Linked DNA regions of Homo sapiens: region 1 is reported to be linked to region 2. The links are microRNA targets in miRTarBase. Many come from high-throughput screens and were not tested one by one. Region 2 holds a microRNA gene; the other region holds the end of a gene's coding sequence.
The links. The annotated mature microRNA hsa-miR-371a-3p reads AAGUGCCGCCAUCUUUUGAGUGU and lies in region 2 at 3,460-3,482, shown strand. An mRNA with a match to its seed (bases 2 to 7 or 8) in the 3' UTR can be bound and repressed. Matches are read on the target gene's strand: a 7mer-m8 pairs with bases 2 to 8, a 7mer-A1 pairs with bases 2 to 7 and ends in A, and an 8mer does both.

Region 1: the mRNA of SPN is a reported target of hsa-miR-371a-3p. Seed matches in the 3' UTR shown: 7mer-A1 at 1,193-1,199.

What each region holds. Positions count from the first base shown.
Region 1 is chr16:29,664,026-29,671,140 of GRCh38, reverse strand. It overlaps SPN (sialophorin), which reads right to left. Exons shown (of 2, transcript NM_003123.6): 2 at 265-7,115. The coding sequence ends at 6,210. Among named protein-coding and RNA genes, the nearest start is that of SPN, 4.3 kb to the right of the region's middle. RefSeq lists a silencer at 6,790-6,909.
Region 2 is chr19:53,784,257-53,791,378 of GRCh38, forward strand. MIR371A (microRNA 371a) reads left to right here and starts at 3,419; the gene lies at 3,419-3,485. MIR371B (microRNA 371b) reads right to left here and starts at 3,486; the gene lies at 3,421-3,486. MIR372 (microRNA 372) reads left to right here and starts at 3,634; the gene lies at 3,634-3,700. It overlaps MIR373 (microRNA 373), which reads left to right and starts at 4,449; the gene lies at 4,449-4,517. It also overlaps LOC124904767.

The sequences.
Region 1 (7,115 bases), not on the chromosome of region 2:
GGCGGGCGCGTGTGGTTCCAGCTACTCAGGAGGCTGAGGCAGGAGAATGGCATGAACCCGTGCCACTGCACTCCAGCCTGGGTGACAGGGTGAGACTCCGTCTCAAAAAACAAAAACAAAAACAAAAACAAACCTCAGAACTCAATTCAAACTCTTGAACTTTTCATAGCATGGCTCCAACCTCCACTTGCAGCCTCATCCCCTACCACTCTCCTCAAACCAGACACCCCCAGGCCACCCCCTTGAACACCTTTTTGACCACTATTTTTTCATATTGTAAAAGTAACAGATATTTATTGTATGAAATTCGGAAAATACAGAAGAGCATAAACAAAATAAAAATCACACATAAACTCACCACTTTGGAGATCAGCATGGAAAACATTTGCGATGGGTCCTTTGTTTCCCTATAAGTGCATATATGGTTGGGAATTTTTATTACAAAACTAAAATCATATGTATTACAGAGGAGTAACTTGCTTTTTTCCCCACTTAACATTATATTGCTGGTATTTTCCAAAGTCATTACATAATTTTCAAAAACATGATTTTTACTGACTATAAGTTCAATAAGCCATTTACAATTATTTTCATAACTAATATATTTAATCTTATACCATATTTTATATTTTCTTTTTTTAAATTTTTTTCCAAGACGGAGTCTTGCTCTGTCGCCCAGACTAGAGTGCAATGACACGATCTCGGCTCACTGCAACCTCTGCCTCCCGGTTTCAAGCAATTCTTCTGCCTCAGACCCCCAAGTAGCTGGGATTACGGGGGCATGCCACCACGCCTGGCTAATTTTTGTATTTTTAGTAGAGACAGGGTTTCACCATGTTGGCCAGGCTGGTTTCAAACTGGCCTCATGATCTGACTGCCTCGGCCTCCCAAAGTGCTGGGATTACAGGTGTGAGCCACCACGCCTGGCCATGTTCTTTCTTTTGAGACAGAGTCTCACACTATTGCCCAGGCTGGAGTGCAGTGGCATGATCACAGCTCACTATAGCCTCAAACTCCTGGGCTCAAGCAATCTTCCCTGCCTTCGCCTCTTGAGTAGCTGGTACCACAGGCGCACACCACTACACCTGGCTAATTTTTCATATTTCAAATTTTTTGTAGAGATAGGGGTCTATGTTGCCCAGGCTGGTCTCCAACTCCTGACCTCAGGTGATCTGCCCGCCTCAGCCTCCTATAGTGCCACCGCATAGCCACTGCACCCAACTATTTTCTTACTGTTCCTTGCTCTATCTCCTTTTTTTTTTTTGAGATGGAGTTTTTTACTTGTCGCCCAGGCTGGAGTGCAATGGCGTGATCTCGGCTCACTGCAACCTCCACCTCCTGGGTTCAAGGGATTCTCCTGCCTCAGCCTCCCAAGTAGCTGGGATTACAGGTGCCCGCCACCACGCCCAGCTAATTTTTTGTATTTTGAAACAGGGTTTCACCATGTTGGTCAGGCTGGTCTTGAACTCCTGACCTCAGGTGATCCACCTGCCTCGGCCTCCCAAAGTGCTGGGATTACAGACGTTGAGCCACCACGTCTGGCCTGCTCTATCTCCTTTTTTTGTTTTCCTTTTTAGTCTTAAAATATCCACTGCTTCTTTTGCTTTGCTTTTTCCTCCAGAAAATTAAAAGACATCTATTGTCGGGCACGGTGGCTCACGCATGTAATCCCAGCACTTTGGGAGGCCGAGGCATACGGATCAGCAGAGGTCGGGAGTTCAAGACCAGCTTGACCAACATGGTGAAACCCCATCTCTACTAAAAATACAAAATTATCCGGGTTTGGTGGTGCATGCCTGTAATCCCAGCTACCTGGGAGGCTGAGGCAGGAGAATTGTTTGAACCCAGGAGGCGGAGGTTCTGGTGAGCCAAGATCACGCCATTGCACTCCAGCCTGGGTAACAAGAGTGAAAACTCCATCTCAAAAAAAAAAAAAAGACATCTATTTCACGTTTGTTCAAAAAAGACTCTATATTGAACTGCTCCACTTTAAAAAATATATATATAAATGTTTACTTTTTGTAGACACGGGGTCTCACTATGTTGCCCAGGCTGGTCTCAAACTCCTGGCTTCAAGCAGTCCTCCTGCCTCAGCTTCTCAAGTAGCTGGTACTACAGGCATGCACCACCACGCCTGGCTAATTTTTTGTGTTTTTGTAGAGACAGGGTCTTTCTATGTTACCCAGGCTGGTCTTGAACTCCTAGACTCAAGCAATCCTCCCTGCTCTGCCTCCCAAAGTGCTGGGATTACAGGCATGAGCCACTGCGCTGGATCTGCTCCACGTTTTTTTTTTTTAATTATGTATTTCCACCTGCTATCCCCTCTGCTGGGAATGCCTTTTCCTTTTCCCAGCTTTGCAAAATCCTTCCCAGCCTTCAAATATCTGAGGCAAGCCTGGGCACAGTGGCTCACACCTATAATCCCAGTATTTGGGGAAGCTTAGGTGGGAGGACCACTTGAGCCCAGGAGTTTGAGACCAGCCTGGGCAACACAGCAAGACCCTGTCTGTACAAATTAAAAATTAAAAAAAAAAATTAGCTGGGCATGTTGGTGCACACCTGTGATCGCAGCTACTTGGGAGGCCCAGGAGGTTGAGGCTGTGGTGAGCTGTGATTGCACCACTGCCCTCTAGTCTGGGTGACAGAATGAGACCTCATCTCAAAAGAAAGAATCTCTGAGGCGTCATCTCCATTCATTCATTCATTCATTCATTCATTCATTCAAATGCATATTCATGGAGGATCTGCAACATGCCAGGCACAGCAGCCACCAGGAATGAAGCAGTGGCTGGGTGCAGTGGCTCATGCCTATAGTCCCAGCATTTTGGGAGGCTGAGGCAGGTGGATCTCTTGTGCCCGGGAGTTTGAGACCAGCCGGGACAACATGGTGAAACCCCATCTCTACAAAAAATACAAAAATTAGCCAGGTGTGGTGGTTCTCATATGTAGAAAACAATAAAAATAATTTTTAAAGAAAGGAATCAAGCAGTGGATATGACAAAGGCCACGACACACTCTCAGGTGAAGCCTTCCAACCTTTCGCCAGGGCAATGCGAGCCCTTCTGCTCAGCCACTGGAATCTCTTCCTCAAAGTCTCCCTTGCCACAGTACACATGCATGGGAGAACATGCATGCACACACACATGCGCGCACACACACACATGCGCACACACATGTGCACACATACACACACAGGCACATGCACGCACGCACATGCACGCACGCACATGCACACGTACACACATATGTGCACACACGCATGGCTTGGTAGGCTTCACCTGAGAGTTATGAATGCACCATTTTCCTTGGTGCATTCATAACACTGTTTGTGCCTCTCTTTTATTTATTTTATTTATTTTTATTTTTTGAGACAGTCTCACTTTGTCACCCAGCCTGGAGTACAGTGGCATGATCCCGGCTCACTGCAACCTCTGACTCCAGGGTTCAAGCAATTCTCTGGCCTCAGCCTCCTAAGTAGCTGGGATTACAGGAGCACACCACCATGCCTGGCTAACTTTTGTATTTTTAGTAGAAACGGGGTTTCATCATATTGGCCAGGCTGGTCTCAAACTCCTGACCTCATGATCTGCCCACCTTGGCCTCCCAAAGTGCTGAGATTACAGGCGTGAGCCACCGCACCCGGCCTGTGCCTCTCTTTTAACACTTATATTTTGATATTTTCTGGATTGTGAAAGCCCTGTTGGGTGCCTTCCTTACCCGTACTACCTCTTTTTTTCAGGATTCGCCCAGGACCTGACTAAAACCAGTCCTGGCTTAGAAAACAACCATATCTGTCAAAGGAAAGGGAGGTGGAGCTGAGGACAGCGACGTTCGTTCGGTGACAGTATTTTCTAAACCTGATATGGGGGCTCTTATTTTAACAACTCTAAGACAACAGTGTCTCTAAGGGATTTTGGACATGGCCTCTGTCATTCTGCAGCTGCAGTGAGTCCAAATAGCAATCAGAAAAGGCCACCAGATGCAGCCCAGTGGGTGCCCAGCCTGGCTGGTAGAAGCTGGTTCCATCCGAGCTCAGCTCTTCCCACCCACTAAGCAAGCCCCTTCCCGCTCCCTCCCTCCGTCTCCTCTCCCACTGCACGAGCCCATCCCCCACCTGACCCTTTCCCCCATCTCCTGCCCAGGCCACAGAGCAGGGCTGTCACACTCACATGCCTCCCCTGTCTTTTTTTGCAGGTCAACCTGTCTGCTCTCAGCCACCGCAAGCTCTAACTCAACAACTTCCTCTTTGAAAATTTCCTCTTTGTCCTCGGGAAATACCAACTGCCCTGGCCCATGTGTGCTCCTGGGCTGTAGCCTGGGCTGGTCTCAAAGGCAGCACCATTGAGTTCTCCCCTCTCCACCCAGGCCCCACAGGGGAAGTCCCTGGCTCCAGGCCCCTCCTTCACTCACTCTCACTGGTTCCTCTTGGAGGATGGAAGGGGCTCAGCCCCTGGGATGGAAGAGGAGACACAGACAAACTAAACCTGGAAACGTGCAGTGGGGAAGCGCCAGCCAGACCAGTCCCCGAGACCAGGGCAAACCCCTCTCCCCCTGCCTCTGTTCGCAGGAGAGCGCGCGCGCGCGCGCGTGTGTGTGTGTGTGTGTGTGTGTGTGTGAGAGAGAGAGAGAGAGAGAGAGCGCACATGCATGTGTACTGCAGAAATGGAGACTTCAAGGAAGGGATTACCATGGCTGAGCTGAAGAACTCATATTTGGGTCACACATACGATCTTTCCATGAAGCCTGGCTTTCTTTTTCTTTTCTTTTTTGAGACAGGGGCTCACTCTGTTGCCCAGGCTGAAGTGCAGTGGTGCAATCACAGCTCACTTCAGACTCGAACTCCTGGGCTCAAGCGATCCTCCTGCCTCAACTTTCCAAAGTGCTGGGATTAAAGGCACCAGCCACTGTGCTCACCCTGGCATTCTGTATGGGGCTACAGACAGAGTTAGATTTTCTGCTATGTCCACCCCATCAGAGCAAAGATGACACGCACGTTCTCAGCAGTCCCTGTGTCCCCCATGCCCAGGTTGACCCTCTTCAGTCTCTGCACCACTTCCCACCCCCACACCGTCTGTACCCACAACTACCCCTCCCAAGCATCGCCAAATCCTCAGCTCTTGCACACAAACCACACCCACGAGTGGACACACGCAGGCACTGGGGTTTCTGAGAACTACACCCAGCCAGAAACTCGGAGGAGAAACCGTGAGGCCTCTGGCTGCCTCTGTCCATGGCTGGGGAGAGTGTGGTGGTGTGGGCCAGGGCCAGCCTACAGTCCATGTGCCCTGGGAAAGATCACAGGCCCGCCTGAGAGCATGGGCTGGTGGCCCCACCCAGCCATGCTCCAGGCTGGCCTGGGGGGCCCAGAGCTAAAGGTGGTTGCGGGCTGCCCAGGTTCCACAGCCCTTGCAGCTACAGGGCAAGGGTGCTTTACAAAGTTAATCCTAGGAGGGAGTTTGCCGGGTTCTCTTGTCCTTCTTCCCAGACTCTGGTCAACCCAGGGTGGGTTCTGGGGGAAAAGGAGAATTGTCAAAGAAATCACAGGGCAGATAAGTTTGGCCGATGGAGACTCAGCAGCCGTTTCCAGGAACAAGAAAGAGGGGGAAATGGTGATGGAGATAAATAGGGGTGGATGAGGAGGGTTTATTCATTCAGTCCACAGACGTTGAGAGGTGCCAGCCCTGCCCTGCCCAGGCGCTAGTTGTGGGTGCTGGGTGAGGATGGCAGCAGGAAATCCAGGGCTGAGAAGCCTCATGAGGATTCAGAGTGAAGAGGTGGGTGAGGAGGCAAGGCGCGGAGGCTCATGTCTGTAATCTCAGCACTTTGGGAGGCTGAGGCAGGTAGATCACCTGAGGTCAGGAGTTTGAGACCAGCCTAGCCAACATGGTGAAACCCCATCTCTACCAAAAATACAAAAAAGCAGCTGGGCATGGTGGTGGGTGCCTGTAATCTCAGTTACTCGGGAAGCTGAGGCAGGAGAATCGCCTGAACTTAGGAGGCAGAGGTTGCAGTGAACTGAGATCGTGCATTGCACTCCAGCCTGGGCGACAAAGCGAAACTCTGTCTCAAAAGAAAAAAAAAAAGGAGATTCGGGTGAGGATCAGGGTGCCGGGTGGAAACATGGGAGCGAGGGGGCAGTGGGATGGTGAGAGGGAAGGTGCTGGAGGCTGGCTGAGATTCCGGCCTCCAGCCTCACTATTCACCGACACTTAAGGGGCAGCCCCGTCTCCCCCTTCGGGCTCATCAGGAGCTGGGGCGTCCACAGCCCCATCCTCACTGGCCACCAGTGGCTCCTCCTCCCCTTTGAGGCTGGGGCCTGACCCAGACTTCAGCTCCTCCATCGCCAGGGAGCCCTGGCGAGACTTCCGTCTGCCAAAGAAAGTGGTGAGCGTGGGCCGACGGCTAGACCCCTCCCCATCGGGGAACCCAGAGCCCTTGTCGCCCCCGGACCCTCCCACGGTCACTGTCACGGCCCCCTCCTCAGGGACCTGGGCTGGCCCAGCCCAGGCGTCCACCACCCCGTTACGCTTGCCGCCTCTGCTCAGCACGAGGGCCCCAGTCCGCCGCTTCTGCCGCCGGCGCCACAGCAGGAGCAGAGCCACGAGGACTATGACCGCCAGCAGGGCCACAAGCACAGCCACTGGCAGCATGCCTCGTGAGTTCTCATCTGGGTTCCGGAAGGGCACAGTGCTTGCGTTGGTGGAGGTCGTTGGAGACATCATTGTAGATAGTTTTACGCTAGAGACCTGGGGTCCACTGGCCCCGCTGGAGGGCTCCAGAGAGCCAGTTGTCATGGTAACAGGGGGTCCAGTGGTCCCAGTGGAGGTCTCCAGAGAGTCAGTTGCCATGGTAACAGGGGGTCCAGAGGTGCCTTTGGAAGTCTCCAGAGAGACAGTTGCCATGGTAAGAGGGGGTCCAGAGGTGCCTCTGGAGGTCTCCAGAGAGCTAGCTGCCGTGGTAACAGGGGCTCCACTGGTCCTACTGGAGGTTTCTGGAGAGTTCGTTGTTATGGTTCCACCTGTCACGGTGTGGGATCCTAGAGAGTTTGCTGTTATGGGAACAGCAGGATGACTGGTTGCATGAGGGGTTTCCTGGGGCACTGATGACATCTTGAT
Region 2 (7,122 bases):
ATTCTTTGTTTTTTTTTTTTTTTGAGACAGAGTTTTGCTCTTGTTGCCCAGGCTAGAGTGCAATGGCGCGATCTCGGCTCACCACAACCTCCGCCTCCCGGGTTCAAGCGATTCTCCTGCCTCAACCTCCTGAGTAGCATGCACCACCACCCCGGCTAATTTTGTATTTTTAGTAGAGACGGAGTTTCTCCATGTTGGCCAGGCTGGTCTTGAACTCCCGACCTCAGGTGATCCGCCCACCTCGGCCTCCCAAAGTGCTGAGATTACAGGTGTGAGCCACCGTGCCCAGCGGATCTTTTTTCTTTTCTTTTTTCTTTCTTTCCAGGGATGGGGTCTTGCTCTGTCACCTGGGCTGGAGTTCAGTGGCAGGATCAGGCCTCACTGCAGCCTTGAACTCATGGGCTGAAGAGATCCTCCCACCTCAGCTTTCCAAATTGCTGAGATTACAGGCTTGAGCCACTGCCTGCAGTCCTCTTTCAAATGCACTTAAAAATCGTCTTTGACTATACTCTTTGTTGAATGTTGATTAAATTCAATTGCACTAATAACATTTTTTATATTCAAAAATACAAACGTTGGCCGGGTGCGGTGGCTCACGCCTGTATTCCCAGCACTTTGGGAGGCCGAGGCGGGCAGATCACCTGAGTTTGAGAGTTTGAGAACAGCCTGACCAACATGGAGAAACCCCGTCTCTACTAAAAATACAAAATTAGCCGGCGTGGTGGCACATGCCTGTAATTTCAGCTATTCGGGAGGCTGAGGCAGGAGAATCACTTGAACCTGGGAGGCGAAGGTTGTGGTGAGCCGAGATCGAGCCACTGCACTCCAGCCCGGGTGGCTGAGGGAGACTCCGTCTCAAAAAAAAAAAAAAAAAGTCAGCAATGAACTCGCTGTGCTGGCCCAAGGGCAGGAGAAGAAAGCCGCCCTTAAAGGAGAAATTTGCAAAGACAAAATGAGGTGATGAGAAAAAGCCGAGTTCTAGGAAATACCCGAGAGATCATCCAGGTGGTTCACAAATAGCAGAAAATCCAGGTGCAGTGTGAGAGGAGTGAGTAGGTTAGATAGGAATCTGGATGGCTGAGCTGTAAGGACATAAGCACTGACCTCCCGCAACCTTGACAAAGATCAAAGCAAGAATTTTTTTTTTTTTGAGATGGAGTCTGGCTCTATCACCCAGGCTGGAGTGCAGTGGCGTGATGTGAGCTCACTGCAACCTCTGCCTCCTGGGTTCTAGCGATTCTCGCCAAACATGCTATTTGCTGTCTCATTTCTATCTCTCGCCATCCTTTGCAGCAAATGCTGTACATTTTCATTGATGAAGGAACTAGGTTTAACCAGAAAGGTTGAGCACGTACTCCCGCAGCTGGCTAGGATTACAAATGGGAAGGAAACCCTGGCCTCCTGGGGCCCCAAGTCTTCCCCTTCCTTGAGTCATTCATTATTTTGAGCACTTACCATTTTCAAGCCCCTCCTCACCTCTCCAACACCCACCTTTTTGAGTTCCTCTCTATGCCTCAAGGTCAAAGGAACTCTAGTGGTTTCATTAAATAAAATCAGAAATGTTTCCGCTTTTTTATCAAAGTTGCTCTCAAAAATGTTCACTGCCGCACTGTTTTTTTCTTTTCTCCCTCTCTTTTTTTTTTTGAGACTAAGTCTCACTCTGTCGCCCAGAATGGAGTGCAGTGGTGTGATCTCGGCTCACCGCAACCTCCACCTCCAGGGTTCAAAGGATTCTCCCACCTCAGCCCCCTGAGTAGCAGGGATTATAGGTGTGAGCCACACCGCACCCAGCTTTTTTATTTTTTTAAAATTTATTATTATTATTTTTGAGATGGAGTCTCACTCTGTCACCCAGGCTGGAGTGCAGTGGGGCGATCTTGGCTCACTGCAACCTCTGCCTCCTGGGTTCAAGCAATTCCCCTGCCTCAGCCTCCCGAGGAGCTGGGACTACAGGTATCCACCACCACGCCGAGCTAATTTTTGTATTTTTAGTAGAGACCATGTTGGCTAGGATGGTCTCGATCGCTTGACCTCGTGATCTGCCTGCCTCGGCCTCCTGAAGTTCTGGCATTATAGGCATGAGCCACTGTGCCCAGCCTATTTATTTATTTTTTGAGACACGGTCTCACTCTGTCCCCAGGCTGGAATGCAGTGGCACAATCTTGGCTCACTGCAACCTCTGCCTCCCGGGTTCAAGCAATTCTCTTGCCTCAGCCTCCCAAGCAGCTGAGATTACAGGTGCACACCACCATGCGTGGGTAATTTTTGTATTTTTTTGGTAGAGACGGGGTTTCGCCATGTTGCCCAGGCTAGTCTCGAACTCCCGGCCTCAAGTGATCGTCCGCCTCGGCCTCCCAAAGTGCTGGGATTACAGGTGTGAGCCACTGCGCTCTGCCAAAATACTATATTTAAATATTTGTTGAGTGGATGACTGGTGGAATGATTTTCTTCTGGTTATTTCTCTGTGTTTTCCAATGTATTTATAACGAATACATGTTGGCGTTACTAGTAATAGGGATCACCTAATTTCTATTTGAATCAGTGTTTGAAAAAGTTTATGAAGGTGTGTCTGACTAAGGCAAGCTAGGATCAAAGGGAGCAGGGTGGCTTGGGGCGGAGACCAGGGGGAATGAGAGGGTGGGAAGGGGTGGGCTTTAATCCTATCAAAGTTGAGTGGGCTCTCACCCTATATAAGAACGCAGCTGCAGTGAACCTTGTTCTTTCTGGCAGACCTGAGGTGTGGACGTATCATTGGCCTCTGTGAGTATTGCTATGTTATTTTATTTTCTTTCATTTTACTTTATTTTTTAGGGTCAGGATCTCACTGTCGCCCAGGATGAAGTGCACAGGTAGGATGATGGCGCCTTGCAGCCTCGACCTCCTGGGACTCACCCTTTTAGCCTCCAGTAGCTGGGACCACAGGCGCGCACCACCATTCCCATGTGCGTTTTTCTGCTTTTTTTTTTTTTTTTTTAGGAGAGATGGGGTTTTCTATGTTATCCAAGCTGGTCTCGAACTCCTGGGCTCAAGAGCAATCCTACCACCGTAGCCTTCCGAGTAGCTGGGACTACAGGCTTGAGCCACTCCGCCCAGCCGGGCTGTACTTTTGTTCTATTTCTGTGATTTTTTTTCAGTCTTAAGGACGAAGGCCCCACTGTCCCTCACACGTGTTCCTTCCTACTTGCATTGTACTCAGTCCTCATGGCTTGCATCTGGAGGCTATGGGCGGGGGAGTGCTTTGAATATCTATACGTGGAAAGCCTTGTTTTTTACTTTTTAAGAAAGGGTCGTTAAATTCGTGCTTTGTAGACCTTCAACAGCTCATCAAGGGCTACTCTCCACCTCCTTGCTTAAAAGCCTCTTCTGATGGGTAAGTGCTTCCACTTGCGATCGCCGCCTTGCCGCATCCCCTCAGCCTGTGGCACTCAAACTGTGGGGGCACTTTCTGCTCTCTGGTGAAAGTGCCGCCATCTTTTGAGTGTTACCGCTTGAGAAGACTCAACCTGCGGAGAAGATACCATTTTGATTGGGTGAGGGGGCGGGTAGCAGGATGGCCCTAGACCCTGCCTATGGCCGTTTCCTCGTGATATAAATTTCTTGGCCGGGGCTCTTGCAGATGGAGCTGCTCACCCTGTGGGCCTCAAATGTGGAGCACTATTCTGATGTCCAAGTGGAAAGTGCTGCGACATTTGAGCGTCACCGGTGACGCCCATATCAACGGATGCCGTGGAGCTCGGTCTTCTGCAGGAACTAAAGAGCCTGTGGTTTCGATTCCCAGCCGGAAACTGTCTTGGGTACAGGTCCCTTACAGCGTCTGGCTGTAATGGCTCCGGAAAACCTGGGGAAGGGAAGGGGGCCTCCTGGGCTCTCACCTGACACAACTAAGGGAATCTGGGTTAGATGGTGAAAGGAAGAGAAGGTTCAGAGGGCGGCTGTGCGCCTGCGCCGGGCGCGGCGGCTCACACCTGTAATCCCAGCACGTTGGGAGGCCGAGGCAGGCGGATCACGAGGTCAGGAGATCGAGACCATCCTGGCTAACACGGTGAAACCCCGTCTCTACTAAAAATACAAAAAATGAGCCGGGCGTGGTGGCGGGCGCCTGTAGTCCCAGCTACTTGGGAGGCTGAGGCAGGAGAATGGCGTGAACCCGGGAGGCGGAGTTTGCAGTGAGCCGAGATCGCGCCACCGCACTCCAGCCTGGGCGACAGAGCAAGACTCATTCTCAAAGAAAAAAAAAAAAAAAAACAGCAGCTGTGACCAAGGGGCTGTATGCACAAAGAAAGGAATGCTTTTTGCTGTTGGTGTTATAATTGATATGTAACTTTCCTCTTCCCCCATAGCAAGCAAGTTTATTGCTGACATTTAACATGTGCTTGGATGATTGGAGGCCAACCTCTTGTAGGCAAGAAAGTCACAGTGATGGCAGATCCTCGCGAGGAGCTCATACTGGGATACTCAAAATGGGGGCGCTTTCCTTTTTGTCTGTACTGGGAAGTGCTTCGATTTTGGGGTGTCCCTGTTTGAGTAGGGCATCACGAACCATCCTGCTTCAAGGGAGCCTGCGGGTCTGACTGCAGCTTCAGCTATGACCTGGAGTTCCCGGGCTTCTCTGCGGGGCACCAGTCTGTATGCTCCATTTTAGATAATAAAAATTGGCATATTCTGGGGTGGGCAGGATACGGGGTTCACCTGCAGATGAACAGGGCAGGAAAAGCTTGATGGGGTGTCGGGGGAATCTGGTTGGCCTTAAAGGGAATTTGGGGTCCTGTTCCTGAATTTGGTAGGCAGCATGCATGTAAGGCTTGAAGTGGGTTTGGCCAGAGCATGGGCTGGAGTGCTTCCACCCTGCTACACGGACAATGCCACAGTCTCACTTTTCCTAACTTTTTTTTTTAATAAAATGTGAACAACATCATGTGTTTCTGGTCTATTGGGTTCCTCTGCCACCCACAAGTGCTGGGATTACAGGCATGAGCCTCATGTCTGGCGTTACTGAACCTTCTTCTATGACCCAAGTACATTGCCTAAAAATACTTGTCAGTATTTTGTGCTTCCCTTCTACCCCTGCTAGAACTTAGAGTTATGCTCTTTGAGAGTTCTGCTCTTTAAACTTCAAACAAGTTTAAAAAGTAAGGCCGGGCACAGTGGCAGCACTGCCGAGGCCGACGCAGGCTGATCATGAGGTCAGATCAAGACCATCCTGGCTCACACGGTGAAACCACATCTCTACTAAAAAATACAAAAACATTAGCCGGGCATGGCGGTGGGTGCCTGTAGTCACAGGCTGAGGCAGAAAGGGCATGAACCCGGGAGGTGGAGCTTGCAGCCAGCCGAGGTTGTGCCACTGCACTCCAGCCTGGGTGACAGCGATAACTGTCTCAAAAAATAAAAACCACCCAGGCTGAAGTGTGGTGGCACCATCACAGCTCCCTGCAGGCCTGAGCTCCCTAGATCAAAAGATCTTCCCATATAAGCCCCCCCTCACCCCACCCTTAGTAGCTGGCACCACAGGAGTGTCCCCGCCATGCTCCACTAATGTTTAGTAGAAATTGGGGTCTCATACATTGGCCAGCTTGGTCTGAAACTTAGGGGGAATCAAACATCCCTCCTTTAGTAGAGATGGGGCTTTACTGTCTTGCCCTGGGTGGCCTCCCTGGGATGATGGGTGTGAGCCACAGTGCCAGGCCTAAGTTCATATTTGGAAGGTTTTTTTGCTTCAGATGGTCTCGTGCTCTCGCTCAGGTTGGAGCGCAATGGCGCAATCTTGGTTCACTGCAACCTCTGCCAGCTTAAGCGATTCTCCTGCCCCCGCCTCCCAAGTAGCTGGGATTACAGGCATAAGCCACCACGCCTGGCTAATTTTTTGCATTTTTTAGAGATGGGATTTCTCCACGTTGGCCAGGCTGCTCTGGAACTCCTGACCCCAGGTGATCCACCCACCTCGGCCTCCCAAAGTGCTGGGATTATAGGCGTGAGCCACCACGTGGGGCCTTCAGTAGGTTCTTAGTTGCTGTTTGCCCTATCACTGGTTTCCGGGTCTGCTGGCCACTATCCCCTGTAAGTTTTCCTATCCCCTGTAGGTGTTCCAAACCCTTGCGGCTGCTTTGCCCACTCCACAGTATCTGAACTGAAGTAAGATCTCAAATTCAAGGGAGTTTTGTTTTGCTATTTGTACCCGCAATTCATAAAGCAGTTGTAGCCTCTGTCCCAATACCGCCACCACTGGTGGGGAGTCCGCCACGGTAACCAGTAAGACTTCTCTTTATATTTGACCTACCTGGGCCTCCTGTCATCTTTTCTACGGGCAGCTTGGGGATTGTTAGTTGAGGGTTTTTTGTTTTTGTGTTTTTTTTTTTGTTTTTTTTTTTTTTTAAAGAGATGGAGTCTCGCTCTGTCGCCAGACTGGAGTACAATGGCATGATCTTGGCTCACTGCAACTTCCACCTCCCAGGTTCAAGCGATTCTTTTGCCTCAGCCTCCCGAGTAGCTGGTATTATAGGCACCCACCACCATGCCCAGCTAATTTTTTTTGGATTTTTAGTACAGATGGCGTTTCCCCATGTTGGCCGGGCTGGTCTCACTAAACTCCTGACCTCAAGTGATCCACCCACCTTGGCCTCCCAAAATTCTGAGATTACAGGTTTGAGCCACTGCGCCCAGCCTTTAGTTGAGTTTCTTAAGCTTGTTTAGGGTTTAGCCTGTATGGCCAGCAGGGTGTAGGTGGGGGTGGTTTGTAAGCAGGGCTGTTTGCTTCAGAAGCAGCTGTGGAAACAGGACTGAATGCAGACATATAAAGAATATTGGGTAAATAACTTTTTAAAAAATTTAGAGATAGGATCCCACTATGTTGCCCAATCTGGTCTTGAAACCTAAACAATCTCTTATCCCAAAGTGCTGGGATTGCAGAAAGCTTAAGGCACAGTTTTACGTGGTAATGGTGGGCCATTTTTAGTTTCTTTTTTGTAGACGATCATGTCATCTAGGCTGGAATGTAGCGGTTCTGTCGAGCTAGGTGTAGCCTCCACTTCCTGGACTCAAGCATTTTTCCTCAGCTTCAGTAGCTGGGTCTATGCATGAATACCCCTTCTGGGGTAGATAGATAGTAGTACATAGAGTAGATAA